Homo sapiens: one gene and its partners. The protein of the gene in region 1 interacts with the protein of each later gene in a biochemical or structural test. Each region holds a gene or a part of one and is shown in the gene's direction. Other genes may lie near its edges.

Evidence for each region.
Region 2: the proteins of ARCN1 (region 1) and SCYL1 form a complex in vitro, tested with the Homo sapiens proteins (one study listed by BioGRID).
Region 3: the proteins of ARCN1 (region 1) and WBP2 form a complex in vitro, tested with the Homo sapiens proteins (one study listed by BioGRID).
Region 4: the proteins of ARCN1 (region 1) and COPB1 form a complex in vitro, tested with the Homo sapiens proteins (2 studies listed by BioGRID).

What each region holds. Positions count from the first base shown.
Region 1 is NC_000011.10:118,582,380-118,589,410, forward strand, and holds part of ARCN1 (coatomer subunit delta), read left to right. Parts: intron 1-799; coding exon 800-979; intron 980-1,429; coding exon 1,430-1,635; intron 1,636-2,100; coding exon 2,101-2,265; intron 2,266-7,031. UniProt on the Homo sapiens protein: Component of the coatomer, a cytosolic protein complex that binds to dilysine motifs and reversibly associates with Golgi non-clathrin-coated vesicles, which further mediate biosynthetic protein transport from the ER, via the Golgi up to the trans Golgi network.
Region 2 is NC_000011.10:65,535,052-65,539,204, forward strand, and holds the end of SCYL1 (N-terminal kinase-like protein), read left to right. Parts: intron 1-175; coding exon 176-331; intron 332-901; coding exon 902-1,090; intron 1,091-1,207; coding exon 1,208-1,283; intron 1,284-1,534; coding exon 1,535-1,699; intron 1,700-1,934; coding exon 1,935-2,077; intron 2,078-2,757; coding exon 2,758-2,829; intron 2,830-2,915; coding exon 2,916-3,131; intron 3,132-3,199; coding exon of another isoform or gene 3,200-3,218; coding exon 3,219-3,273; intron 3,274-3,390; coding exon 3,391-3,515; 3' UTR 3,516-3,653; downstream 3,654-4,153. Other genes in the region: LTBP3 (latent-transforming growth factor beta-binding protein 3 isoform 1 precursor), read right to left, coding at 4,029-4,153. UniProt on the Homo sapiens protein: Regulates COPI-mediated retrograde protein traffic at the interface between the Golgi apparatus and the endoplasmic reticulum. Involved in the maintenance of the Golgi apparatus morphology.
Region 3 is NC_000017.11:75,845,332-75,852,362, reverse strand, and holds the end of WBP2 (WW domain-binding protein 2), read left to right. Parts: intron 1-686; coding exon 687-795; intron 796-2,623; coding exon 2,624-2,759; intron 2,760-3,700; coding exon 3,701-3,793; intron 3,794-4,432; coding exon 4,433-4,567; intron 4,568-4,753; coding exon 4,754-4,876; intron 4,877-5,378; coding exon 5,379-5,455; intron 5,456-5,575; coding exon 5,576-5,629; 3' UTR 5,630-6,664; downstream 6,665-7,031. UniProt on the Homo sapiens protein: Acts as a transcriptional coactivator of estrogen and progesterone receptors (ESR1 and PGR) upon hormone activation. In presence of estrogen, binds to ESR1-responsive promoters. Synergizes with YAP1 to enhance PGR activity.
Region 4 is NC_000011.10:14,496,783-14,504,399, reverse strand, and holds the start of COPB1 (coatomer subunit beta), read left to right. Parts: upstream 1-4,588; 5' UTR 4,589-4,693; exon of another isoform or gene 4,694-4,791; intron 4,792-5,414; 5' UTR 5,415-5,471; coding exon 5,472-5,562; intron 5,563-7,617. UniProt on the Homo sapiens protein: The coatomer is a cytosolic protein complex that binds to dilysine motifs and reversibly associates with Golgi non-clathrin-coated vesicles, which further mediate biosynthetic protein transport from the ER, via the Golgi up to the trans Golgi network.

The sequences.
Region 1 (7,031 bases):
TTGGCGTCCCGAAGTGCTGGGATTACAGGCATGAGCCGCTGCACCCGGCTGTAAGAATCAGGGTCTTGGGCGTGGTGGCTCACGCTTGTAATCCCAGCACTTTGGGAGGCTGAGGCGGGTGGATCACCTGAGGTCAGAAGTTTGAGACCAGCCTGACCAACGTGGTGAAACCTCGTCTCTACTCAAAATACAAAAAAATTAGCTGGGCATGGTGGCGGGCACCCATAATCCTACTACTCAGGAGGCTGAGGCATGAGAATTGCGTGAACCCAGGAGGTGGGGGTTGCAGTGAGCCGAGATCGTGCCACTGCACTCCAGACCGGGTGACAGAGTTAGACTTTGTCTTAAAAAAAAAAAAAAAAAAAAAATCAGGGAGTTAGGCTGGGCGCAGTGGCTCACGCCTGTAATCCCAGCAGTTTGGGAGACTGAGGCAAGCGGATCACCTGAGGTCAGGAGTTCAACACCAGCCTGGCCAACATGGTGAAACCCCGTCTCTACTAAAAATACAAAAATTAGCTGGGCGTGGTGGTACACACCTGTAGTCCCAGCTACTCCGGAAGCTGAGGCAGGAGAATCACTTAAACCCAGGAGATGGAGGTTGCAGTGAGCCGAGATGGCACCACTGCACTCCAGCGTGGGCAGCAGAGCGAGACTCTGTCCCAAAAAATAAAATAAAGACTAGAAGTAGCTAATAAAGGGATTTAGGTTATTGAAATTTATGTACTCTAAAGGATAAGACTTGGAAATATAGCTGCTGATAAATTCTAAATCTTTCTTTTTTATTGGTGTCCACGCTTAGATCCCTGAATATTGCCGAGCCTTAGAAGAGAATGAAATATCTGAGCACTGTTTTGATTTGATTTTTGCTTTTGATGAAATTGTCGCACTGGGATACCGGGAGAATGTTAACTTGGCACAGATCAGAACCTTCACAGAAATGGATTCTCATGAGGAGAAGGTGTTCAGAGCCGTCAGAGAGGTAAATAGGATCTTCTCTGGGACTACCTGTTTGTATGTCTTTCTCTTAGGCTTCACTAATCTCATTTTCCTATTTTTACTTACTAATGTAGACTGTATTCAAAACTATGTCCAGGCTAGGCACAGTGGCTCATGTCTGTAATCTCAGCACTTTGGGAGGCGGAAGTGGGAGTATCACTTGAGTCCAGGAGTTCAAGACCAGACTGGACAGCGTAGTGAGACCCTGTCTCTATAAAAAGTAAAAAAAAAATTAGCCAGGCATGGTAGCACGTGCATGTGGGTCCCAGCTACTTGGGAGGCTGAGATGGGAGGATCACTTGAGCCCAGGAAGTTGAGGCTGCAGTGAGCTGTGATTGTGCCACTTGCACTCCAGCCTGGGTCACAGAGTGAGACCCTGTCTCAACAAAAACCCAAAAAAAAAAGCTACATTAATGTATGTCTTTTTCTGTAGACTCAAGAACGTGAAGCTAAGGCTGAGATGCGTCGTAAAGCAAAGGAATTACAACAGGCCCGAAGAGATGCAGAGAGACAGGGCAAAAAAGCACCAGGATTTGGCGGATTTGGCAGCTCTGCAGTATCTGGAGGCAGCACAGCTGCCATGATCACAGAGACCATCATTGAAACTGATAAACCAAAAGTGGCACCTGCACCAGCCAGGTATAATCCAGTGTACTTTAGAATACCAGGTGAAGGGTGTATATGTGTCTATCTTTGAAGTCATAATCTGATTTCTTGGAAAGCTGTAAATAAAGAAGGACTTGATGAAGTAAGATATGATGTTACATTTGGCCACATACAATATGAGGATAAAGAAGAAATCTGAATGTGGTGTTTTTCCTTTTGTATAAAAGAGAGTTATAAATTATGTCATGACCTCAGTTTCCTATGAGAGTTGCCTTATTGTGGGGAGGAAAGGGCTATTTAATGCTTTATGGAATGTAGATTTTTAATCTTGATGTTCATTGATTGATTTTAGGGGAAATCTGTGAATTACCCAAAATTATATACAAAATTTTGTGCACAGGTGTATTTCTCTGGACGGGAGATACAAAATTTTCATCAGATCATGTGTGCTTGTAAAAATAAACCTTTGGGTAATGAATTTCAAATTCTTCCACTTAGGCCTTCAGGCCCCAGCAAGGCTTTAAAACTTGGAGCCAAAGGAAAGGAAGTAGATAACTTTGTGGACAAATTAAAATCTGAAGGTGAAACCATCATGTCCTCTAGTATGGGCAAGCGTACTTCTGAAGCAACCAAAATGCATGCTCCACCCATTAATATGGAAAGGTAAGTAGGAACTTTGAGTAAGAATTCAAGCTTTGAATACAGTCCACATAATTTTTTAAAAATCTTATTTCAGTGTGCTATAAATTCTTTCTCTGTCTTTTAATCGTTCCTGATTTAAAAGATTTATTCAGAGCAGATTCTACATATTAACATAAGATCGTTTTTGGTTTTGTTTTGTTTTATTTACTTATTTTTTTTTGAGATGGAGTCTCACTCTGTCACCCAGGCTGGAGTGCAGTGGTGTGATCTCGGCTCGCTGCAAGCTCTCCCTCCCAGGTTCACGCCATTCTCCTGCCTCAGCCTCCCGAGTAGCTGGGACCACAGGCGCCCACCCCTACGCCCGGCTAATTTTTTTGTATTTTTAGTAGAGATGGGGTTTCGCCGTGTTAGCCAGAATGGTCTCGATCTCCTGACCTTGTGATCCGCCTGACTCAGCCTCCCGAAGTGCTGGGATTACAGGCGTGAGCCACCACGCCCGGCTGTTGTTTTGTTTTATTTTTTTGAGACAGGGTCTTACTATGTTGTCTAGGCTGGCCTCCAACTCCTGAGCTCAGTTAATCTTCCTGCCTCAGCCTCCCAAGTAACTGGGATACAGGCATGCGTTGCTGCACCTGACCTTTTCCTTTTTCCTTAAACCATGATTGGGGGCCCTCAGCCACCTATTTTCTATGAAGTTTAGAACTTTCCTTTTACAGCTAAATTAAAGTTACTTGTAGTCACACCTGGTATATAGCGTATCTCTTAGAATGCACTTGAATTAGGGGACTAGAGCTATGGTGACCCCACACTGTATTTTGGCATGACTTTTTCTAATTAAAGTCTAAGTAGAACCAATCTTTAATCCAAAACTTGTAGATATCTTTAATAGCAAATTAATATATTTTGCATTTTTATTTTATTTATTTATTTTTTTGAGATGGGGTTTCACTCTGTCACCCAGGCTGGAGTACAGTGGTGCAATCTCAGCTTGTTGCAACCTCTGCCTCCCAGGTTCAAGTGATTCTCCCACCTCAGCCTCCCAAGTAGCTGGGACTACAGGCATGCACCACCACGCTGGGCTAATTTCTGTATTTTGGTAGAGATGGGGTTTTGCCTTGTTGCCCAGGCTGGTCTCGAACTCCTGGACTCAAGCAATCTGCCTGCCTCGGCCTCACAAAGTACTGGGATTACAGGCGTCAGCCACCATGCCCAGCCATCTTTTGCAGTTTAAATATTTGAAGCCAGTATGGAATATTTTGATTCATCTCTTATCTCAGGGCTGTGGTACTGGTTGGTGACATTTTTAAGTGGTAGTTATCAAGTTCACATATTCGTGACTCAGATTTCTCGTCTTGAAGCCAGACCTTCTACTGTTGCTGATGGTTTTGAGGTCAAGTGAAAGATAATACCAGGAGGATACCTTTATCAGGTGTGCATAAAAGAGGAGTATTTACTCTTTTTCTTTCTTCTTTCCTTTCTTTCTTCCTTTCTTTCTTTCTTGACAGAGTCTTGCTCTGTCTCCCAGACTGGAGTGCAATGGCACGATCTTGCAACCTCCACCTCCCGGGGTCAAGCAATTCTCCTGCCTCAGCCTCCCAAGTGGCTGGGATTACAGGTGCACGCCATCACACCCGGCTAATTTTCTTATTTTTAGTAGAGACAGAGTTTTGCCGTGTTGGCCAGGTGGGTCTCGAACTCCTGACCTCAAGTGATCTGCCTGCCTCTGCCTCCCAAAAGTGCTTGGATTATAGGCGTGAGCCACCGTGCCCAGCCAAGTATTTACTCTTTATATGCCCTGTTCTGTATGAAATGAACAGGGTTACATTGGGATAAATTTCTTGATTCACTAAAGCCGCTGTGCTCTTCCTAGTGGTTGCTTTGAGTGAGACAGAGGCTTCACACTTTTAAAAAGATATTCCTGAGTGCAGTGGCCCACACCTGTAATCTTAGCACTTTGGGAGGCTGAGGTGGGCGGATTGCCTGAGCTCAGGAGTTCAAGACCACCCTGGGCAACATGGTGAAACTCCATCTCCACTAAAATACAAAAAATTAACCCCTTCTCCACTAAAATACAAAAAATTAGATGGGCGTGGTGGCACACACCTGTAGTCCCAGCTACTCAGGAGGCTGAGGCAGGAGAATTGCTTGAACCCGGGAAGCAGAGGTTGCAGTGAGCCAAGATGGTGCCACTGCACTCCAGCCTGGGCGACAGAGTGAGACTCTATCTCCAAAAAAAAAAAAAAAAAAAAAATGTTGGAGATCATCACATATTAAAGAGAATTTGAGACACTGTTTTTTTCTAAATGATAAATTGCCTCTTGAGCACAGAGCAAACTTTTGTGAAGGTAAAATGGTACCATGCATTGTCTTAAGATGCACTCCTTTATGGTCTTGACTCTGATGCCTTTGTTTCTAGGAAGACCTAAGAGGTTGGAACAAAGAACATGGTAGGATAACAAAATATTTTTTGTAGCCTCTGTAGTTCATCCAGCCAAACGTATGTCTATTACTGAATATGAATAGATTGTACTTAATACTTGCCTCTAGCAGCAGCAGTTTTTAATCTTTTAAAAATTGGATTATACATTCATATAGTACAAAATTCAAAAGTTGTTAACAGTCAGAAGTCTTCCTCTCACTCAGCCATGCCAGTTTCTCATTTTGGAGACAACTAGTATTAACAGAGTTTTTTGTGTATCCTTCTAAGGGGGATGGTCTGTGATATACAGATGAATAAAAAACATGTATACAGTGTGTCTATTTTTCCCCCTTTTATGCAAAGCAGTAAAACTAGACACGTCTTCCAATTGCATTTTTCATTTAATTATTTTGGAGATAAGAATCTCCTTATTTGAAACTGCAGAGATATGACATCTAAATGCGCAATACCTTACCCTAGACTGGATCCTCTACTAATGTAGTGTAGAAAAAACAACTCAAACTGTTTGTTTTTTCTATTTTCTCATTCAACAGCAACAATGAACACAGAAGACTTCTGTGATCAAGTGTGTTTAGATTTTTCCGCACACATCAAGCGGTCACACCTAGCTGGTGTCCTCCAATTCAATTCAATTCTGATGCTATCTACCTGGGAATAGCCTCAGATTCTACAGGTTGAGAGTTCAGTCCCCCAAGACTGATTCTTCCTTCCCACCAGTCATAAGTCCAGACTTTCAGAACTTCTTACTGACCTCAAGTTTGGCCTCCCACGACCCCCTCTGGGGTGTTCAATTAATCTGCTAGAGCACCTCACAGAACTCAGGGAAACTTACTTGACATTTATCAGTTTGTTACAGAGGACATTTTAAAGGATGCAAATAAGCAGCCAGATGAAGAGATACATAGGGCAAGGTCTGGGAGGGTCTTGAGCACAGGAGCTTCTGTCCCCAGGGAGCTGGGGTACGCCACCCTCCTGGAAAATAGATGAGACCTTGTTCATCTTCCTGTAAGCCTGCATGTGTTCAGCTGTCCAGAAGCTTCCCAGACCCTGTCCTCTTGAGCCTTTTATGGAGACTTCATTGGATAGGCATGATTGACAGGCATGCAGAAATGTGACTGGGCAAGGGTATGACCTAATACTGATAGGCTGAGTGGGGAAACACAGCAAGGCCTGTCCAAATTCTTGGCCTCTCTGTGCAGCATTAATCTTCCTCCAGGATATGGTGCAGGACCCCTTTTGGAGATCCTGCCTTGGGCTGGTGAAAGGAGGGCAGGAGAAGGTCAAAGAGAGGTTCTTTTTTCTAAGGGCTGCTCCTGAGGCCTAAAGTGCCCCAACATTATGTATAATAAGGGATATGGGAGTTATGAGCTAGGAACCATGGATGAAAACCGGTATGTATGTATATCATAATATCACAACTACTATTAAAAATATTATTAGGTCAACTGACGAAATTGACATATGGTTGACAGATCGGATACAATTATTGTATCATTGTTAGCCTGGCATGATGGCACATGGCTGTAGTCCTTCCTACTCAGGAGGCTGAGGCAGGAGGATCACTTGAGACCAGGAGTTCAAGGTTATAGTGAACTGTGATTGTGTCTCTGAATAGCCACTGCACTCCAGCCTGGGCAACATAGCAAGATCTGTCTCTTAAACAACAACAACAGGCTGGGTGCGGTGGCTCACGCCTGTAATCCCAACACTTCGGGAGGCCGAGGCAGGCAGATCACCTGAGGTCAGGAGTTCAAGACCAGCCTGGCCAGCATGGTAAAACTCTGACTCTAGTAAAAATACAAAAATGAACCGGGCGTGGTGGCAGGTGCCTGAAATCCCAGCTACGCAGGAGGCTGAGACAGGAGAATCACTTGAACCCGGGAGGCAGAGGTTGCAGTGAGCCGAGATCACGCCATTGCACTCCAGCCTGGGCAAGAAGAGTGAAACTCTATCTCAAAACAACAACAACAAAAAGCTAAAAAAACTATCAGTGTAAATTTGTGAAGTTAATAATGGTACTGTGATTGATTATGTAAGAGAATATCCCTAATCTTATAAAATAAGCACTGAAGTATTTAGGGGTAAAGTGCCGTGTTGTATATAATCTGCTTCTTAATGGTTCAGGGAAAAAAAATCAAATGTATAACATACATATATAATGTTTAGAGAGAGAGAAACACAAGTGCAAATTATAAAACAAATGAGGTAAATATTAACAATAGGTGAATCTGGAAAAGGGTATATATGTCTTCCTTGTATAATTTTAATTTTTTTAAGCTTGAAAATACTTACAAATAGAAAGTTTTTTCAGTTGTTTGTTTTCTCACCATTGCCTACTATTCATTCG
Region 2 (4,153 bases), about 53 Mb from region 1:
GGACAGAAATGGGGTCCCTTTCTTCAACATGCTGGACAGGGCCAGGCCCAGGCTGGGAGGTGGCCTTGCAGGCTTTGATGGGTGTGCTCTGGGATGAGGGCTGCCAGGAGGCTGTTCCTGCACAAGGCCCTTTGCCCGCCACAGCCCACAGTTCCCACTCATTTCTGCCCCACAGTCCATGCTGCTCCTGGCCCCAAAGCTGAACGAGGCCAACCTCAATGTGGAGCTGATGAAGCACTTTGCACGGCTACAGGCCAAGGATGAACAGGGCCCCATCCGCTGCAACACCACAGTCTGCCTGGGCAAAATCGGCTCCTACCTCAGTGCTAGCGTGAGTGTCCTGCACAACTGCTGGAGCCCGGTCCCTGTCGCAGGACCACAGCCTCCTCCAGGGCCAGGAGTCTTGTGTGTGGGGGCCTTCATTCTCCCAGAGACTTAGACCCTGCACGCTGTTGGCCCCATATCTGGGTTCCCAGAGGAGGAGTGAGTTGGCCGAAGTCACACAGTCAGGAGGGATCTGGGATCTGAATCCAGGCGTGCTTGGCCCCATGGCCTGTGTGCATCCCTTCAGCCAGGGTTTGTAAGTTCAGTTGCTTGCCGTGCCCAGACAGTTAACAGGAATGAACGGTCAGCTGGGCAGGGAGGAAGGGAGCCTGTGTCCGAGCCCTGGGGACAGCTGCTGTTGTGGTCCCATGCCCTGAGGCAGTGTGGAACCCAGTGATTTGGGAAGAGAAGCCCAGGTCCAGAGTTTTAGGTCAACTCTCCCCATTTAAGTGATTCATTCATATTTTTCAGATTCTGGGGACCTATGGGTGGTCCCATTCTGGGAAGTAAGGGCTGGTGGTTCTGGGTCCCAACATTGACCCTACACTCAGGAGCCCTCTTTCCTGCCCCATCGTAGACCAGACACAGGGTCCTTACCTCTGCCTTCAGCCGAGCCACTAGGGACCCGTTTGCACCGTCCCGGGTTGCGGGTGTCCTGGGCTTTGCTGCCACCCACAACCTCTACTCAATGAACGACTGTGCCCAGAAGATCCTGCCTGTGCTCTGCGGTCTCACTGTAGATCCTGAGAAATCCGTGCGAGACCAGGTGAGGCACAGCTGGGCCTGGGCCCTGGGCTGGGGCTGTAGGGGATGTCAGCCCCTAGCTGGCCTGGTAGGTTCTTGGGAACCCCAGAGACCCCAGCTCTGCCTCGTTACCCCACAGGCCTTCAAGGCCATTCGGAGCTTCCTGTCCAAATTGGAGTCTGTGTCGGAGGACCCGACCCAGCTGGAGGAAGTGGGTGAGTGGCTTACACTCGTGTTCCCTCTTTCCCTGCCATGTCCTTGACTGTGACCTGTTTGTGTCCCACCCCCACTGGAGTTTCTGAAAGGTCCTAGTGAGCAGACTTGACTCAGCTCCCCCTTCACAGATGGGAGAAATCAGGCCTGGAGAAAGGAGGGGTGGCTGCAGGGCACTGTCAGTTCCTGCTGTCCTGTCACCCATGGGTGCCTGACGTGCCCATACCCACCTCTCTCTCATGCCACTGCCCAGAGAAGGATGTCCATGCAGCCTCCAGCCCTGGCATGGGAGGAGCCGCAGCTAGCTGGGCAGGCTGGGCCGTGACCGGGGTCTCCTCACTCACCTCCAAGCTGATCCGTTCGCACCCAACCACTGCCCCAACAGAAACCAACATTCCCCAAAGACCCACGCCTGAAGGTGAGTGTCCTGGCCTAGCTGCATCAGTGGCTGAGAGGGCTGAGAGCTGCAGGCACCCAGGAACTCTTACTGTCTGACTCCCCCGGGGATGGTGAAGGGGATATAGGAGCTGGGTAGGCTCCAGTCACCCTGTGGGCTTCCTTGGTGCCCCTTCCCCCCAGTAGCCCCCTTCCCCTAGCAGCCTCTGCCCTGTCCCAAGACCCCCCTGAAAGCTCAGTGAGCCTCTGCTCCCCAGGAGTTCCTGCCCCAGCCCCCACCCCTGTTCCTGCCACCCCTACAACCTCAGGCCACTGGGAGACGCAGGAGGAGGACAAGGACACAGCAGAGGACAGCAGCACTGCTGACAGATGGGACGACGAAGACTGGGGCAGCCTGGAGGTGTGTGGGGCTGAGGGAGCCTCCCCAGGGGACCCCAGCTCAAATCCACAGGCTGCCATTCAGGGAGCTTCTGTGGGGCCTGGCTGGAGTTGGCCTGTCCTCATCAGCACAGCATCCCTGGCACGTAGGCCTCATGGAGTGGCCATTGTAGGCCAGAGCCAGCAGCAGGCCCCATTCAACCCCAGCGGCCCCAGGGAGCAGGCTAGGCAGATGGTGCCTGGGGCATTCCCTGAACTTCCTCACTCTTACCCACACCGTCCCCCTTTCCCCTCCTCCAGTGCCCACCCAGCCATGGGGGTCAGCAAGGAGAGGCCACTCCTGGGTCTAGAACCAGACCAGTTCTGCTTGGGGGATGGGCTCAGGTTGGGCTGAGGGAGGACTGGGGCTGTCCTCAGAATGGGGCAGAGCTGGGGGCCCAATTTCCCCATCTGGCTGACAGCAGCAGTTTCTGGCCCTCAAGGCTGTTGGAAGGGGCATCTAGATCTCATTCCCCAGCCTTAAAGAGGGGTGAGGGCAGGCCAGGGTCAGCGTCCATTTAATAGATGGGAAACAGGGCCTGAGGAGCAAATGAGGAGGAAGGCAAAAGACAGTGGTGGGGCCCGTGGCTGGGATGATGCTGGGGCGGGCTCACTTGCCCTTTAGCATGGGGTGGGAGTCAGTGGTCCCTTCCCACACTGCAGCAGGAGGCCGAGTCTGTGCTGGCCCAGCAGGACGACTGGAGCACCGGGGGCCAAGTGAGCCGTGCTAGTCAGGTGAGCTGGGTCTGGTGGGGAGGTGTGTGTATGGGGCTCTTTCCTCCTTGGGCCCAGGGCTACTTCCCCCTCCCGCTCTTCTACAGGTCAGCAACTCCGACCACAAATCCTCCAAATCCCCAGAGTCCGACTGGAGCAGCTGGGAAGCTGAGGGCTCCTGGGAACAGGGCTGGCAGGAGCCAAGCTCCCAGGAGCCACCTCCTGACGGTACACGGCTGGCCAGCGAGTATAACTGGGGTGGCCCAGAGTCCAGCGACAAGGGCGACCCCTTCGCTACCCTGTCTGCACGTCCCAGCACCCAGGTACCCAGCACAGGTCTGGCGAGAGGGTAGAGATGGTGGACCTCAGCCAGAAGTGGGCCCCACTGCAGCCCACACTTCTCTTTACAGCCGAGGCCAGACTCTTGGGGTGAGGACAACTGGGAGGGCCTCGAGACTGACAGTCGTAAGTGCTTCCCCTGGGTGGGCTGAAGACTAGGGCTCCCCGACTAGCCCGCCCCTACAGGCCCCCGGCAGGCACTGGCTGGAGAGCTGAGACCGGGGCTCCCCTTCCTGACGCCAGGACAGGTCAAGGCTGAGCTGGCCCGGAAGAAGCGCGAGGAGCGGCGGCGGGAGATGGAGGCCAAACGCGCCGAGAGGAAGGTGGCCAAGGGCCCCATGAAGCTGGGAGCCCGGAAGCTGGACTGAACCGTGGCGGTGGCCCTTCCCGGCTGCGGAGAGCCCGCCCCACAGATGTATTTATTGTACAAACCATGTGAGCCCGGCCGGCCCAGCCAGGCCATCTCACGTGTACATAATCAGAGCCACAATAAATTCTATTTCACACCCCTTGTGCCGGGCTCAGTCTAGCCCCTGGGAGGCGGCTGGGGTCTGGCGCCGCCCTGCGCAGCCCGCGCCCACGTCAGACGTGAACATCAATTTGCTTCGAAAGCCAAGGGTAAAGAGGCACGATCTGATTTATCAGTTTCTAGGAAACACCCTCTGGGAGGAAGGCAGGCAGCGCCCGCCGGAGACCTTACAACCGCCCGCTAACCGGGGAGGGGGGCCGGTAGGGGCGCCTCGGGTCTCAAGGCGCCGGGAGGGTCTGCGGGCCCTGAAGGTCCCTGGGTCCGAGCCACAAGTCGGGGCAGAAGTGAGGCCGAGCTCGCGGAAATCCCTCAGTGATCACCGAGGTCTGGGCCGAGGGCGGCGTCGGCGGCGTCAGCGGCGGCGCTGGGGAACGCAGGCCCCGTGCGGGCGGCTGCGCGCGAAGCCGGCTTTGCAGACGCAGCGGAAGGAGCCGCTGGTGTTCACGCAGCGCTCGCTCTTGCACAGCAGCCCGCGCT
Region 3 (7,031 bases), on another chromosome or scaffold:
TTTGGGGGCTTTATAAGCGGGGTTTGGGAAATTTTACAGAACCCCCAACCTGCTCATTTCTTCCATGGCTATATTAATGGGTTTTTTTGTTGGTTTTTAGTTTTTTTGTAGAGATGAGGTCTCACCATGTTGCCCAGGCTGGTCTCAAACTCCTAGGCTCAAGCGATTCACCCGCCTCAGCCTCCCAAAGTGCTGGGATTACAGGTGTGGGCCACTGCGCCTGGCCCTATGAATGGCTTTATTTATTTATTTGTTTTTGAGACAGAGCTTCTCTCTTGTTGCCCAGGCTGGAGTTCAGTGGCGCCATCTCAGCTCACTGCAACCTCTGCCTCCTGGGTTCAAGCGATTCTCCCGCCTCAGCCTCCTGACTAGCTGGGATTACAGGTGCCCGCCACGGTGCCTGGCTAATTTTTTTGTATTTTTAGTAGAGATGGGGTTTCACCATGTTGGCCAGGCTGGTCTCAAACTCCTGACCAGGGGTCATCCGCTCGCCTCGGCCTCCCAAAGTGCTGGGATTACGGGCGTGAGCCACCGCGCCCAGCCCTATGAATAGTTTTAATGCCGCACTATTGAGAGGTTATGAGAGCTGACGTGCCGGGCAGCTGCTTGGGAGAAAGGCCCAGTGTCTGGGTGACGTCGCGTCTCCATACTGTCTCATTGAGGCTTTTCCTCTTTTCTCATCACAGCATCCTAATGTCCTATGATCACGTGGAACTCACATTCAATGACATGAAGAACGTGCCAGAAGCCTTCAAAGGGACCAAGAAAGGCACTGTCTACCTTACCCCTTACCGGGTGAGTTGCACAGCAGGGCAGTTGGTTGAGAGGCTTGTTGCTGTTGGAGGTGACGTGAGTCTTAGTCTCAGGTCTGCCTCAGCCTCATGAGTCAGGTGGCCTCTGAATCCTGGTGAGTGTTAGTGCTTCACTCTGCCTGTTTCTCTGTCACATGCTCCTGGATTCCAGAATCACCAGGCTCTTTGTGTAACTGACCTGACCACTGGGCAGTGAACCCATGTCAATTCCAGAGCCGCTGCTGCAAAATCTCTATAGAGTTGGATGCAGCCGCTGGCATGACTTGGGCCTGGAGGCCAGACTATTATTATTAATATTTTGTTTTCTGTGAGAGTAGCCCATGAAGCCCTGTGTGTATCCAGAGTGAGAAATCCAGTAAACAGGGTACAGTTGCATGGCACGGCCTCCGGACTGGGCAGAGAGCCCGGTACCACCCCGCAGAATGACAAATGCCAGGCTGCAGAATGGGCCCTGCCTGAGAGTTACCCACGTGGACTCTGAGAGGTTGAGAAATACAAATGGATGTTCTTGGAAAAGGATTGCTGCCTGTGGCTACTCAAGATTTAGACTCAAAGACAGGCTGGTGCGGAGGCTCATGCCTGTAATCCCAGCACTCTGGGAGGCCAAGGTAGGCAGGCCACTTGAACTCAGGAGTTCGAGACCAGCCTGGGCAACATGGCAAAACCCCATCTCTACAAAAAATACAAAAATTAGCTGGGTGTGGTGGCACATGCCTCTAGTCTCAGCTACCCGAGAGGTAAGGTGGAGAATAACTGGAGCCTGGAGAGGTTGAGGCTGCAGTGAGCTGGGATCATGCCACTGGATTCTAGCCTGGGCAACAGAGTGAGACCCTGCCTAAAAAAAAAAGACTTAGACTCAAAGACAGCTGGAAGAAGAGGAGCACATTTTCAAGTTTTAATCTCCATGACTTCACAAAGACAGGAGAGTCTCAAAACCCCATCTCTGGAGGCTCAACTTGGCACCTTCAGTCACAGATAAAAGTCGTGGGTTTAAAACCCTGGCTGGGGCCGGGTGCGGTGGCTCATGCCTGTAATCCCAGCACTTTGGGAGGCCGAGGCGGGCGGATCATGAGGTCAGGAGATCGAGACCATCCTGGCTAACACGGTGAAACCCCATCTCTCCTAAAACTACAAAAAATTAGCCGGGCATGGTGGCGGGCACCTGTAGTCCCAGCTACTCAGGAGGCTGAGGCAGGAGAATGGCGTGAACCCGGGAGGCGGAGCTTGCAGCGAGCCAAGATCGCGCCACTGCACTCCAGCCCAGGCAACAGAGTAAGACTCCATCTCAAAAAAAAAAAAAGAAAAGAAAAGAAAAAATAAAACCCAAGGGTTTCTCCAGGCACAGGCTCCAGGAGAGCTCTTGTTGCTGTTTATAGCCCCCCTCAATGGGAGCTAGCGACCTACTGCACCATCATTCTCAGTTCTGGAGAGTTCAGGCTGGAGACCCCCCTCTTTCAGGAACCCATCCCTGCCTTGCCTCTGCCTGTCCTTCCCTAGCTTCGTAGGCCCCTTCACTTAGGCAACACTGCCACCACCCCACCACGTCAGTGACAAAGCAGTCTGCCCTGCTCATAGATACTATCTGTGACCAGCACGTTTTTCTCCCGTGTGCGTGAGCTTGGCCTCTCCAGGCTGCGGTGAGCCCTTTCCCTTTCCAAAGCTCTCTCCAGGAGTGTCTGGCACAGAGAGAGCCATGGGGCTGCTGGACCCTGGCACTGGGAGAGGATTCGTCACTCCCAGGAAGCAGGCGGGAAGCATGGCAGCGTGGGCTGTGCTTCTAGTACTGATGGCCTCACCCTCTCTCCCTGCAGGTCATCTTTCTGTCCAAGGGCAAGGATGCCATGCAGTCCTTCATGATGCCATTTTATCTCATGAAAGACTGTGAGATCAAGCAGCCCGTATTTGGTGCAAACTACATCAAGGGAACAGTGAAGGCGGAAGCGGGAGGTAGGTGATGGGAACTCAGGGACACGCATGGGGCCTGCAGGGAGGTGTCCTGGGAACCTCTGACTGCCGCCGTGGGGGCGTCCCCTTCAGACCCTTATCGCCCTAGCCATGACCTCTTCCCAGCTCTGGGCTGCCAGCTGGTGGGGTTTGATTGCCAAGAGGTGGGGAAAATGCTGGCATGAAAGACAGCAGCTCAGATCAGCTTTTCAGAGCGTGAAGTCTGCAGAAGCCTGCGGACTGAGTCAAGATGCTTAGTGCAACTTGGCGAGCGCATACAAATTTTAGACTCAGGAAGGAGCTGCATCAGGTTCTTGAGAGGGGCCTTTTCATGAGAGCCAGGAAGAGGCAGCTGCCTCTGGGAAGCCAGAGTCACCCTGCTTTGGGGCTGGCTTTTTGGCAGGCCCCAGAGACCTCTGCATTGAACTTGCCTTCCCCTTGACACCCAGCCAGGCCCGCCCTTGCTATTGAGACACTCTTGGTCCCCCTTTGGGCAGAAGCCAGGCTAGAGGGGCCGGAGTCTGTCCTTGGGCCCCCTTAGGACGAGAGGTCTGCTCTGAATTTTAAGGTCGGCTGTTGCTGAGTGGGCTTGTTCCTGTGAAGCTGCCGAGTGCTTGACTGGGGGCGGAGAGAAACCTTGATGTGGCCTTGGCACCCGTGTACATATTGGGCCAAGGGTGGGAGGACAGGCTTGTTCCAGGAAGGAGAGGCCATTGTTCCAAAGGGGGAAGCGAGTACAGCAGGGCCAGGCCAGGCTGCAGTGCTGGCTCCTATGCAGGCAGCAGGCTGGAAACCATGGCACCAGGAAGTCCCCATCACAGTGCAGGCCCAGCCCCCGCAGGCCTCCCGGGCGTTGGATGAAGTCCTGGAGAGGAAAACAGCCATCTCTTTGGGCATAAGTTTTCTTTTCCTGTGCTGTTTATTCACTGTCCTTCCCCTTTCAGGTGGCTGGGAAGGCTCTGCTTCCTACAAGTTGACTTTCACGGCAGGGGGCGCCATTGAGTTCGGACAGCGGATGCTCCAGGTGGCATCTCAAGGTATCCAGGCTCCGAAGATTAGGGGCTAAAGACACACTAAACATGTAGGGGTTTGGTATGAGTTTGCTTCCTTTTCGTTTTGCTTTTTCAAGAACTCAAGAGGTAAGTGTTTGGGCACCAGGCTGACCAGGCCTAGGAGTTGGGAAGGAAAGCTGTCATTGGCATCAGCTCTGTCCTGTACCTCAGAGACTGCGTTTCCCTGCCTGGGGCAGGTGGATGACGTTTTGACAAAGCTGTTTGGACTCAAGGACACTTTACTATGGCCTCATAAAACAAACACTAAACCAACCATTCGACTGCGGTTCCGCAGCCATTGAAAATGACCGAGGGATGGGCCAGCAGACATCCTCCGCCAGCTCACTCCTACCCCAGCCCTGAGCCTCCCTCCCGGCCTCTGTCCACCCTCCAGCCTTGCCCTTGACCTCCCTTGCCTTCCCCTGGCTCTGACCTCTCCCGTCCTCTCTCATCCCTGACCAAGGTGGCCCCCCGAGTATGGGTGGAGGGTGGAGTGGGATGGACAGAGGATGTCTGCGGGGCACATTCCTGAGACCCAGTAGCTCCCATCTGCAGGCAGCGGGGCTGCCCTCTCCCCGCCCCAAGGCAGGCCACGCTCATTTCTCTTTCCCCTTGTACTCGTAGCCTCCAGAGGTGAAGTCCCCAGTGGAGCCTATGGCTACTCTTACATGCCCAGCGGGGCCTATGTCTATCCCCCGCCAGTCGCCAATGGAATGTACCCCTGCCCTCCTGGCTACCCCTATCCACCGCCCCCACCTGGTGAGTGTGTCCTTTGCTGCCCCCACTCCCCTCATGAGCCCACCTACCCAGGCTCCCCCCAGGCCAGGGAGACTTTATTCCTTGAGCTGCTTCAGGACCAACGAAGGAGCTGGAGAGGCCCCCCTCACCCGGGAGGGGGCCGCAGCCGGGTGCTCACCATGTCCTTGTTACTCTCTCACCGAGCAGAGTTCTATCCAGGACCCCCCATGATGGACGGGGCCATGGGATACGTGCAGCCCCCACCACCGCCCTACCCTGGGCCCATGGAACCTCCGGTCAGCGGCCCCGATGTCCCCTCCACTCCTGCAGGTGAGGGCCCTTGGGTGCTGGCAGCCCTTCGGGACCAGCCCTCTCCTCCCCGATGTCGCACAGAGAGCCTCAGAATGGCCAGAGACTGCTGAGAGCCGCAGATGATGGATGACCCCTGGACTACCCCAGGGGCCCAGCAGGGCTGTGGCCTGGTGGAGCGGAGCTAGATTCTGGCCCCACCCCCATCCCTTAGCTATCCATGTGCCCTGGGCGGGGAAGGTCACCCTGTGTGCCTCTCGATCCTCTCATCTACACTCAGCTGGTCGGTCACAGTGGCACCTGGGGCATTGGCTCAAGGATTAGATGAGGTGAGACATGCGATGGGCCTGGAAAGGACCGTGCCAGCGCGTGGCATGTGCTCAGGAAACCTCACCTGCTGCTCTCATTGGTGGAACTGGACCCCCAGCACCAGCTGCCCCGAGCCATGGGGGCCCGGGGTCTCTTAGCTGAGCTCAGGGGGAGGAGAACTTGTCACCGACACCAGGTGTGTTTGCTCTCACAGCCGAAGCCAAGGCCGCAGAAGCAGCCGCCAGCGCCTATTACAACCCAGGCAATCCTCACAACGTCTACATGCCCACGGTGAGAGGGCTTGGCAGTGCCGGTGCAGCCCCACAGCCGCAGATGCTGGGAGCCGCAGGGGGATGACCGCACCATGTTTTAAACCTTCTAATGCAAGTCTCTCCTTTCTCCCTTCTTTAGAGCCAGCCGCCGCCACCTCCCTACTACCCACCGGAAGATAAGAAGACCCAGTAGGCCCTCCTGCCTCCCTGCCTCCCACCCTCATCTCTCTACCCTACCCCTCCCATCGGGGCTGTGCTGGGGCTTGGGGAGGGGAGGGGGCGCCTTGTTCTCCCTCCAGGTCTGATCATAAACAATTACCAGGAACTAGCATTGTGGGACATTAGGGCCCCCGGCCTCGGGAGAGGTGCCGCCCAGCTTCCCATGCCAGCCCGGAGCCCACAGTGCTGCCCAGCGTACCTCCCTCACCGTCTGGGGCTCTTCTGGGAGCACGGAGCATCCCCTGTTCCTGTTTCACTCTCAGCTTCTCCCCTCGAAGGGACTCTCTGGCCACCTCCTCCACCGCAGTCCAGCTCCCTCAGTCTGGCACCCACTGCTACACTCAGCCTCATGAGCCACTTCAGACCAGCCAGGTGTCTTCCCGGGCCCTGCCAGACCCTGCTCACATTCCCTCTGCTGGTCTGTGCTGGTCTCAGAAGGCCACCGCGCCCGCATTCCACTCAGCCAGGGTCCAGCTGCAGCCCCCGCCACCCTTCCTTCCCTTCCCTGTCCTGGGTCATGTTGTTGCCACCCTGTGTGACTTTTGAAGCTGTAAAATGAGCTTCCAGGGCTTGGGTGGCGTCGGGGCAGGGCCGCCGAGGCTGGGAGGAAGCCCTTCTGCCTTTTGCTGGTGTTTCTGGAATTTGCTTTCCCTCACCTCTCACTTCCTTCTAGAAGGAGCTTCCTGACTGGAACCAGAGAATGCATGTCTGTCCACTTGGTGGCTGCTGGGTGGGGCCGGGAACAAGGGCCCCTGACCCTGTGTGCTGGCCGGGACCTGCCACCAGCCCCCCAGCCTGCTTCTTCCCCTTAAGCTTTGTGCCCCTGGATGCGCTAACATTCACTCTTGTTTGTCCCTGGACTGGCCATGAAGTGAGGAGATGGTTATTTAAAGAGAATTCCCTATTTATTTGACAAAAAATCCAGTTAATATATTAATGTGAAATAAACCCTGTTTGCACCTCGATTTGTTTGCTGAAAATGTGAAATAGTAAAAATGAAATAACTGGACCCTTTCTGGCTCTGCGTGTGGTGACCCGGGGGTCTCTTCCGGAAGGAGAGCCGTCTGGCCGCTGAGGGCCCTGGAGACTTCTGGGACGGTTCCCTCCCATGGGAGGATCCCCATTCTCACGGCCCAGCCAGCCTGTCTGGTCCCCAAGACAGCTCTGGCCTCTGGAGCTGGTTCTTAACGGTTGTCGCTCAGCAGCTGTGTCCCTCCCCCACTGAGTCCCCAGGGCCTGGCTGGGACAGAGGTGGATGTGGCCCAGAGTTGGCCTTGAAGGGAGGAGTTGGGGCTGCCACCTTGTCCCCTGCTGGCTCCTCGAGGAATGGCAGCCCTGGCCTAAGTCCTGGTTGCTGGAGGGAGGAGGCCGAGTCA
Region 4 (7,617 bases), about 100 Mb from region 1:
AGACCATGTAAACTGAAATTAGAGGAAATCTGATTTAAAAAAAAAAACCATAATCCTGGCTGGGCGTGGTGGCTCATGCCTGTAATCCCAGCACTTTGGGAGGCTGAGGTGGGCGGATCACTTGAGGTCGGGAGTTCCAGACCAGCCTGACCAACATGGAGAAACCTCATCTCTACTAAAAATACAAAACAATTAGCTGGGTGTGGTGGCACATGCATGTAATCCTAGCTACTCAGGAGGCTGGGGCAGGAGAATCGCTTGAACCCAGGAGGCAGAGGTTGCAGTGAGCCAAGATCGTGCCATTGCACTCTAGCCTGGGCAACAAGAGTGAAACTCCATCTCAAAAAAAATTTTAATTTAATTTAATTTTTAAAAACCCATAATCCGGCCAGGCGCGGTGGCTCACGCTTGTAATCCCAGCACTTTGGGAGGCCGAGGCAGGCGGATCACGAGATCGGGAGATCGAGACCACGGTGAAACCCCGTCTCTACTGAAAATACAAAAAATTAGCCGGGCATGGTGGAGGGTGCCTGTAGTCCCAGCTACTCGGAGAGGCTGAGGCAGGAGAATGGCGTGAACGCGGGAGGCGGAGCTTGCAGTGAGCCAAGATCGCGCCACTGCACTCCAGCCTGGAGCGAGACTCTGTCTCAAAAAAAAAAAAAAAAAAAAAAGACAAAAACCATAATCCAAAATTTGGCTGCTGACATCTAGAGGAGTTATTTTATTTTCTGAGATAATACATCTTTCTGAAGAAAAATTCATTTATAGATAGTAACCCATTTTAGACCTAATTCTAATTAGCTGCTATTGGCTTTGGGCAAGTTACTTAGCTCTTTTTTAAGGAAACCCTTTGGAGAATTATAGTGAGGGTTAAAAGGGAGAATTTATGTGATAACACCTTTTAAACTCTAAAATTCATAGTTTATTTTTTCCCCCCAACTTTCCCAAATCTTCAAAAGCCTTAGTAGGTTTAAATCCCCCTGATTTCTTAGAGAATGGTAAAAGTAGCTCTGGGAGCCTTATTAAGGGAAAGATGTCTAAGTACTGGAATGTGAGAGATGTCAGTTTCTCCAGCAGTAGCCTCAGGAATCTACCATGCAAGCTTGGGAGTTAGACGCAAGTACCATGTGGCTATTTGACCTACAGTGGAGTTGCATCAAGCACATGTAACTTTCCACACACATACACACACACACACACACACACACACACACAAAATAGTGAACTCAGGAACTCCCACCTGCCTCTACACTCAATGGGTATTTAGTCTGGGGAGGGAGCATAAGTGGGAAATATAATAATCTGCCCTTTGCTTAGGCAGATCTCTCTTCCACATGCATTCCATTGGGTGAGCCTCTGTCTTTGCTGAATGATTCTGCTGTTTAAAGATATTGTGGCTCATACCTGTAATCCCAGCACTTTGGGAGGCCGAGGCGGGTGGATCACCTGAGGTCAAGAGTTCGAGACCAGCCTGGGCAACATGGCAAAATCCCGTCTCTACTAAAAATACAAAAATTAAATGGGCATGGTAGCACGCGCCTGTAGTCCCAGCTACTCGGGAGGCTGAGGCAGGAGAATCACTTGAACCTGGGAGGCAGAGGTTGCAGTGAGCCGAGATCATGCCACTGCACTCCAGCCTGGCCAGGTGACAGAGCGAGACTCTGTCTCAAAAAATAAAACCAAAGATATTGTTATGTTTATCATTGTGGAACATGCACCTGTTCCACAAATACAAACCACTAGTTGGCTTGTATTCAGCTAAAAAAATAAATATTCTGTATTATACTTTGGGAGCAATTTAAGTAATTTTTTCAATGTGATTTTTAGTCTTATATACTGACTTTAGAACTTAAAGTCCTCCCCACTCCAGTAATACTCAACCCCACTGTATATACAGTTCATTGTGATGCCCTTTCATGTTTAGTCTGTTGTACTCACATATTCCATTTAGTCTGTTGAATAATTACAAACAGTAAAATCCTAATGATGTTTTATAAAGCCTGTCACTTTGATACAAAGATACTCAATTCACCTGGAATTTATTGAGCATGTATGTGTGCAGCTCTGAAGAACTGGCATGGAATAAAAGGCAGTGGCTGGGTGTGTTGGCTCACGCCTGTAATCTCAACACTTTGAGAGGCCGAGGTGGGAGGATTGCTTGAGTTCAGTTCAAGACCAGCCTGGGCAATATAGTGAGACCCCATCTCTACAAAAATTTTTAAAACTTAGCCTGGTGTGGTGGCACACACCTGTGGTCCCAGCTACTCAGGAGGCTGAGGTGGGAGAATCACTTGAGTCCAGAGTCTGAGGCTGCAGTGAGCTATGATCATGCCGCTGTACTCCGGCCTGGGTGACAGAGTGAGACTCTTGTCTCAAAAAAATAAAAATAATAACGTAGATGACAGGATTCAGGTCCTAGTTCTAACTCAGTGTTTGGCCATTACATGATTTGGGGCAAGTCCCTATTCTCTAGGCCTTGACTTTTTAGATACCACAATTTCTATGGTCCTTGATAAAATGACAAGGTCTTTGCTCTGCATTTATAATTTAAAGGCATTCAAAATTATATAATTACATCTTAGAGTAAAACAGCCCAAACAAAGTGTATTTTACAACAGATCAGGAAGAGTTAATGAGGTTAATATTAAGGTCCTTATACCCATTCAAAAAGCTTTGTACTTAAGAATATGGAAAAATATATGCACTGCCAATGACAATTGTAGGTTCAGATCTAACTAAAGTAATATGTAAAACATTACATTTTCTTGCCTTTTCATATTTAGAACTTAATGACTTGGGGTCATGAGAAACCTCAAAGTTATTCTGTAACAGAATGAACCTCTGGGGCAAATGAAGTCTGTACGGTTTAAGTCCTACACCATGATGGCCCTAAACTGAGCTTTCTTACTGTAAATCTAGTTTTTATACCTTTTTTGGCCTCATTTCTTGCTGACAGATTGTCACTTTTTGGTAAGTTAAGTGGGCTTGGAAACCAGATAACTGCATTTGTAAAACTTCCATGTTAAAAACGAATACACAGAAAAGGAACAAACTGTTGTACACACACCCGGGATTGATCTCAGGGGAATTATGCTCAGTAAAAAAATCCAATCTCAAAAGATTACATTGTATAATTCCATTTATATAACATTGAGATGATAAAAATCATAGAGAATTATTAGTGGTTGCCACAGGTTAGTGTGGGAGGTGGCTATGGCTATCAAAGGACAGCATGAGAATCCTTGTGATAGAACTGTTCTGTCTCGACTGTGTTGGTGATTACACACATATAAGCATGATAAAATTGTCTACAAGTGAATATAAAAACGAGTACATGTAAAACTAGTGAAGTCTGAACAAGGCTGGGTGAATTATGTCTGTCAATTTCCTGAAATTGATATTGTACTATAACTATGCAAGATGTTACCATTGGGAGAAACTAGGTAAAGAGTATATGGGATCTCTGTATTCATGTCACTCTACCATTAAGATTAAATATTAAAAAAAATGAATGCACAGAATCAGAGAGGCACTCTTAAAGTGCTGTCAACACATGGCCTTTGAATACAATTTTGGGTGCTCAAAGAATTTGTAGATTGCTTGATGGTTCTAAAAAGAGAAAGCTCAAAAGAGCTAGATCCTACATAAATGAGGTACTATTGGTGTTCCATCTTCCTGAGATGAACCTGTTAACTAGGGCAGTTGCCGTCAGATCTGTTTTTATTCGCAGTATTTTGCTTAAGCTTTAAGATATTTTGTTATTAATAATTGGCCATAAAACCCTTTTGTGGGCAGAGGGAGGTGTAGGGGCGGGGCGTGCTATGGAACTTCAAATGGGCAAAACCGAAAGTACTATGGCTGATTGCAGCTGTAACAGGTCTTTGGAGATACGTAAAATCCTTTAAAACAGTGACTGTCTCCCTTTATGCATAAAAATTTTTTCTAATCTACTGGGTGCTCAGAAAGGATCACGGAAAGAGGCCATTATTAAATAAAAAGCAGAAATTATACCAATGTGACTTTGGATTTTCAAATAACTCCAGCCCTACCTGCAGAGAGGCAGATTCAAACTACTAGCGATGTTAAGAACTGAAATGGATTTTAATCTAGTGATAATTAATAAAATAACTGAATTACCTTCCCAATAGTATTAGTTACTTTCCCAGTTTATTAGGGTGTGGACAAGAAAAAGGATTACTGGGTTTCCACTTTCTAGTCCAGAGCTCTTTTTCACGGGAACAGAGCCCTGTAAAAGTTTCCCTCTCTCCAAGCACTTTCTCCCCTTGACTGTTCCTGAAGAAGGAACGATTTCCAGTTAGCGTTTAAATTAGCATAGTGCTTAACTCAGAGCTTGGCTTGCAGGGAAAACTAGAAAATACGTGGTTTCATTGCTCTGCGGCCTAATCAAACCCTGGACAAGAGAAGAGGAAGAAAATAGGATATACTTGCAGCGCGCAAGCGCTGCACAAAGAAAGCATGTCCTCTCTGAGTCGCCGTAGGTGCTAGGTGGCTGTGGCTTCGGTCGTTACCCCACCCCCTTCCACGTCAGCCAAGGACTCTGGAGCCGCCGCCGCCGCTGCTGCGGTTCATAGCCGGAGTAGACGGAGCCGCAGTAGACGGATCCGCGGCTGCACCAAACCACTGCCCCTCGGAGCCTGGTAGTGGGCCACAAGCCCCCAGTCCCAGAGGCGTGGTGGGTCGGGCAGAGTCGGAAGAACTGGCTTTCTAGCTGGAAGATGCGGAAGGGGAGCGACTAGGCCGCTTGCGTCTGGGCCTGGCAGAAGGGACCGGGTGGGGGTACGGGTGGGGGTGCGGGTCGGGGTGGGGGCGGAGGGCTAGGAAGCTCCGGGTCGGACGCTCCATCCCGTCCTTTGTATTGGCCGGGGGTCTTTTCCCTCCCAAGACCCCTAGGCGTACCCTTTCAGGCCTAGGGCTGCTTTGCTGGAGGAAGGGGAGGAGGAAGCGGGTGGGGCGAGGTGGGGGTGCAGCGCGTTGATTAAGGGACCCGCGGACATAGAGTCGGAACCCACCAAGGACCGCGATAAAGCGCTTTAGGGTTTTGGCAGAGTATTCAGGCACAAGGTCTCTTAACTTGAGCATGCAGATTGTGTGTTGTGTAAAAACCATACGGTCCATAACATTGTGGGGTGTGGCTGGGGGGACTGTCACTGTTCTGTGGGCCTTCATTCGGCTATACAGCATTCTCAAACACTGGACCGGGATGCGATGAGGGAGTGATAGATAATATACCTTATGCCAGAGCTGATAATGTGGTTTTTACTAGAATTTATTTTTATGGGAACACGATATAGATTGACCTGCCCTTTCTAATACTTTAAAAGGTCACTATAGGTACTTGTTTGTGGGTTTTTTTTTTTTAATTTGTAATGATATGTCTGTGTTTATTTTTCTAGATTTTCTGGCATCCTTAAATCTTGTGTCAAGGATTGGTTATAATATAACCAGAAACCATGACGGCGGCTGAGAACGTATGCTACACGTTAATTAACGTGCCAATGGATTCAGAACCACCATCTGAAATTAGCTTAAAAAATGATCTAGGTAAACTTCGATATTATTTTGAGAATGAAATGAAAAAAGAAAAAACAAAAATAAAAAACTCATATTTCATATTCCTTTATAATTAGAAATGCTTAATTTTTGTCTAAAGTTTTTCTAGGATCTCTTCGATAGACCTTTTATTAAAAATGCGAACTTCTTTAAATATTGGTTGTTTGAAATAGAACATCTCAGTTTATCTTAGTAAACCTAAAGAAATTGTAATAGTTTAGATATTCCTCAAAATGTCATAATTTTTGTAGACTTCAATATATTAATGTGGCTGATTATTTTCTCTAGGCAACAGGTTGAGGATGTGTATTGGAATATCTTAATTCCATCGTGCACTTAACTTCATGTTACTTAGCTTGTAAAACCAAAAGAACTTTGTTCTTTGGATTACCCACCCAAACAATTAGGTGAACACTGGAATAAACATGTATTTTCCAGAAAAGTTTACCTTTTCATTTTTTATGCATTTTTGCAAATAAGAAAACAACTATATTTCTGAACTTTTTGTAATGTTTAATTTTTGGGGGTACACAGTAGATGTATATATTTATGGGGTACATGAAATGCTTTGATACAGGCATGCAATACATAATTATCACATGGAAAAATGGAGTATCCATCCCTTCAAGCATTTGTCTTCTGTGTGACAATCCAGTTACACTTTCAGTTATTTTTAAATGTCCAATTAAATTATTATTGACTGTAGTTACCCTGTGTGCTATCAAATATCGGGTCTAACTCATTTTTTCTGTACCCATTAACCATCTCCACTTCCCTACCACTACCCTTCCCACCTCTGATAACCATCCTTTTACTCTGTCTCCGTGAGTTTGTTTTGATTTTTAGCTTCCACAAATAAGTGAGAACATGTGAAGTTTGTCTTTCTATGCCTGACTTATTTCATGTAACATAATGACCTCCAGTTCCATCCATATTTTTGCAAATGACAAGATCTCATTCTTTTTTTATGGCTGAATAGTACTCCATTGTGTATATGTACCACATTTTCTTTATACATTTATCTGTTGGTGGACACTTAGGTTGCTTTCAAGTTTTGACTGTTGTAAACAGTGCTGCAACAAACATAGGAGTCCAGATATCTCTTTGATGTACTCATTTCCTTTCTTTTGGATATATACCCAGTAGTCGGATTGCTGAATCGTATGGTACCCCTGTTTTTAGTTTTTTGAGGACCCTCCAAACTGTTCTCCATAGTGGGTATACTAGTTTACATTCCCACCAACAGTGTACGAGGGTTCCCTTTTCTCCACATCCTCTCCAGCATTTGTTTTTGCTTGTCTTTTGGATAAAAGCCATTTTAACTGGGGTGAGATGATATCTCATTGTAGTTTTGATATGCATTTCTCTGATGATCAGTGATGTTGAGCACCTTTTCATATGCCTGTTTGCCAATTGTATGTCTTTGTGAAATGTCTGTTCAAATCTTTTGCCCATTTTTAAATCAGATTATGAGTTTTTTTTTTTCCTGTAGAGTTGTTTGAGCTCCTTACATATCTGGTTATTAATCCCTTGTGAGATAGGTAGTTAGCACATATTTTCTCCCATTCTGTGGGTTGTCTCATCACGTATGTCGATTGTTTCCTTTGCTGTGCGGAAGCTTTTTAACTTGATGTGATCCCATTTGTCCGTTTTTGCTTTGGTTGCCTGTGCCTGTGGGGTATTATTCAAGAAATTTTTGGCCAGACCAGCGTCCTGGAGATTTTTCCCAATATTTTCTTGTAGTAGTTTCATAGTTTAAAGTCTTAGATTTAAGCCTTTAATCCATTTTGATTTTATTTTTGTGTAAGTTGAGAGATGGGGGACAAGTTTCATTCTTCTGCACATAGTTTTCCAAGCACCATTTATTGAAGGGACTGTCTTTTCTCCAATGTATGTTCTTGGCACCTTTGTCAAAATGAGTTCACTGTAGGTGTATGGATTTGTTTCTTGGTTCTGTTATTTTCCATGGGTCTTTATGTCTGTTTTTATGCCAGTACCATGCTGTTTTGGTTACTGTAGCTATGTAGGATAATTTGATGTCAAGTA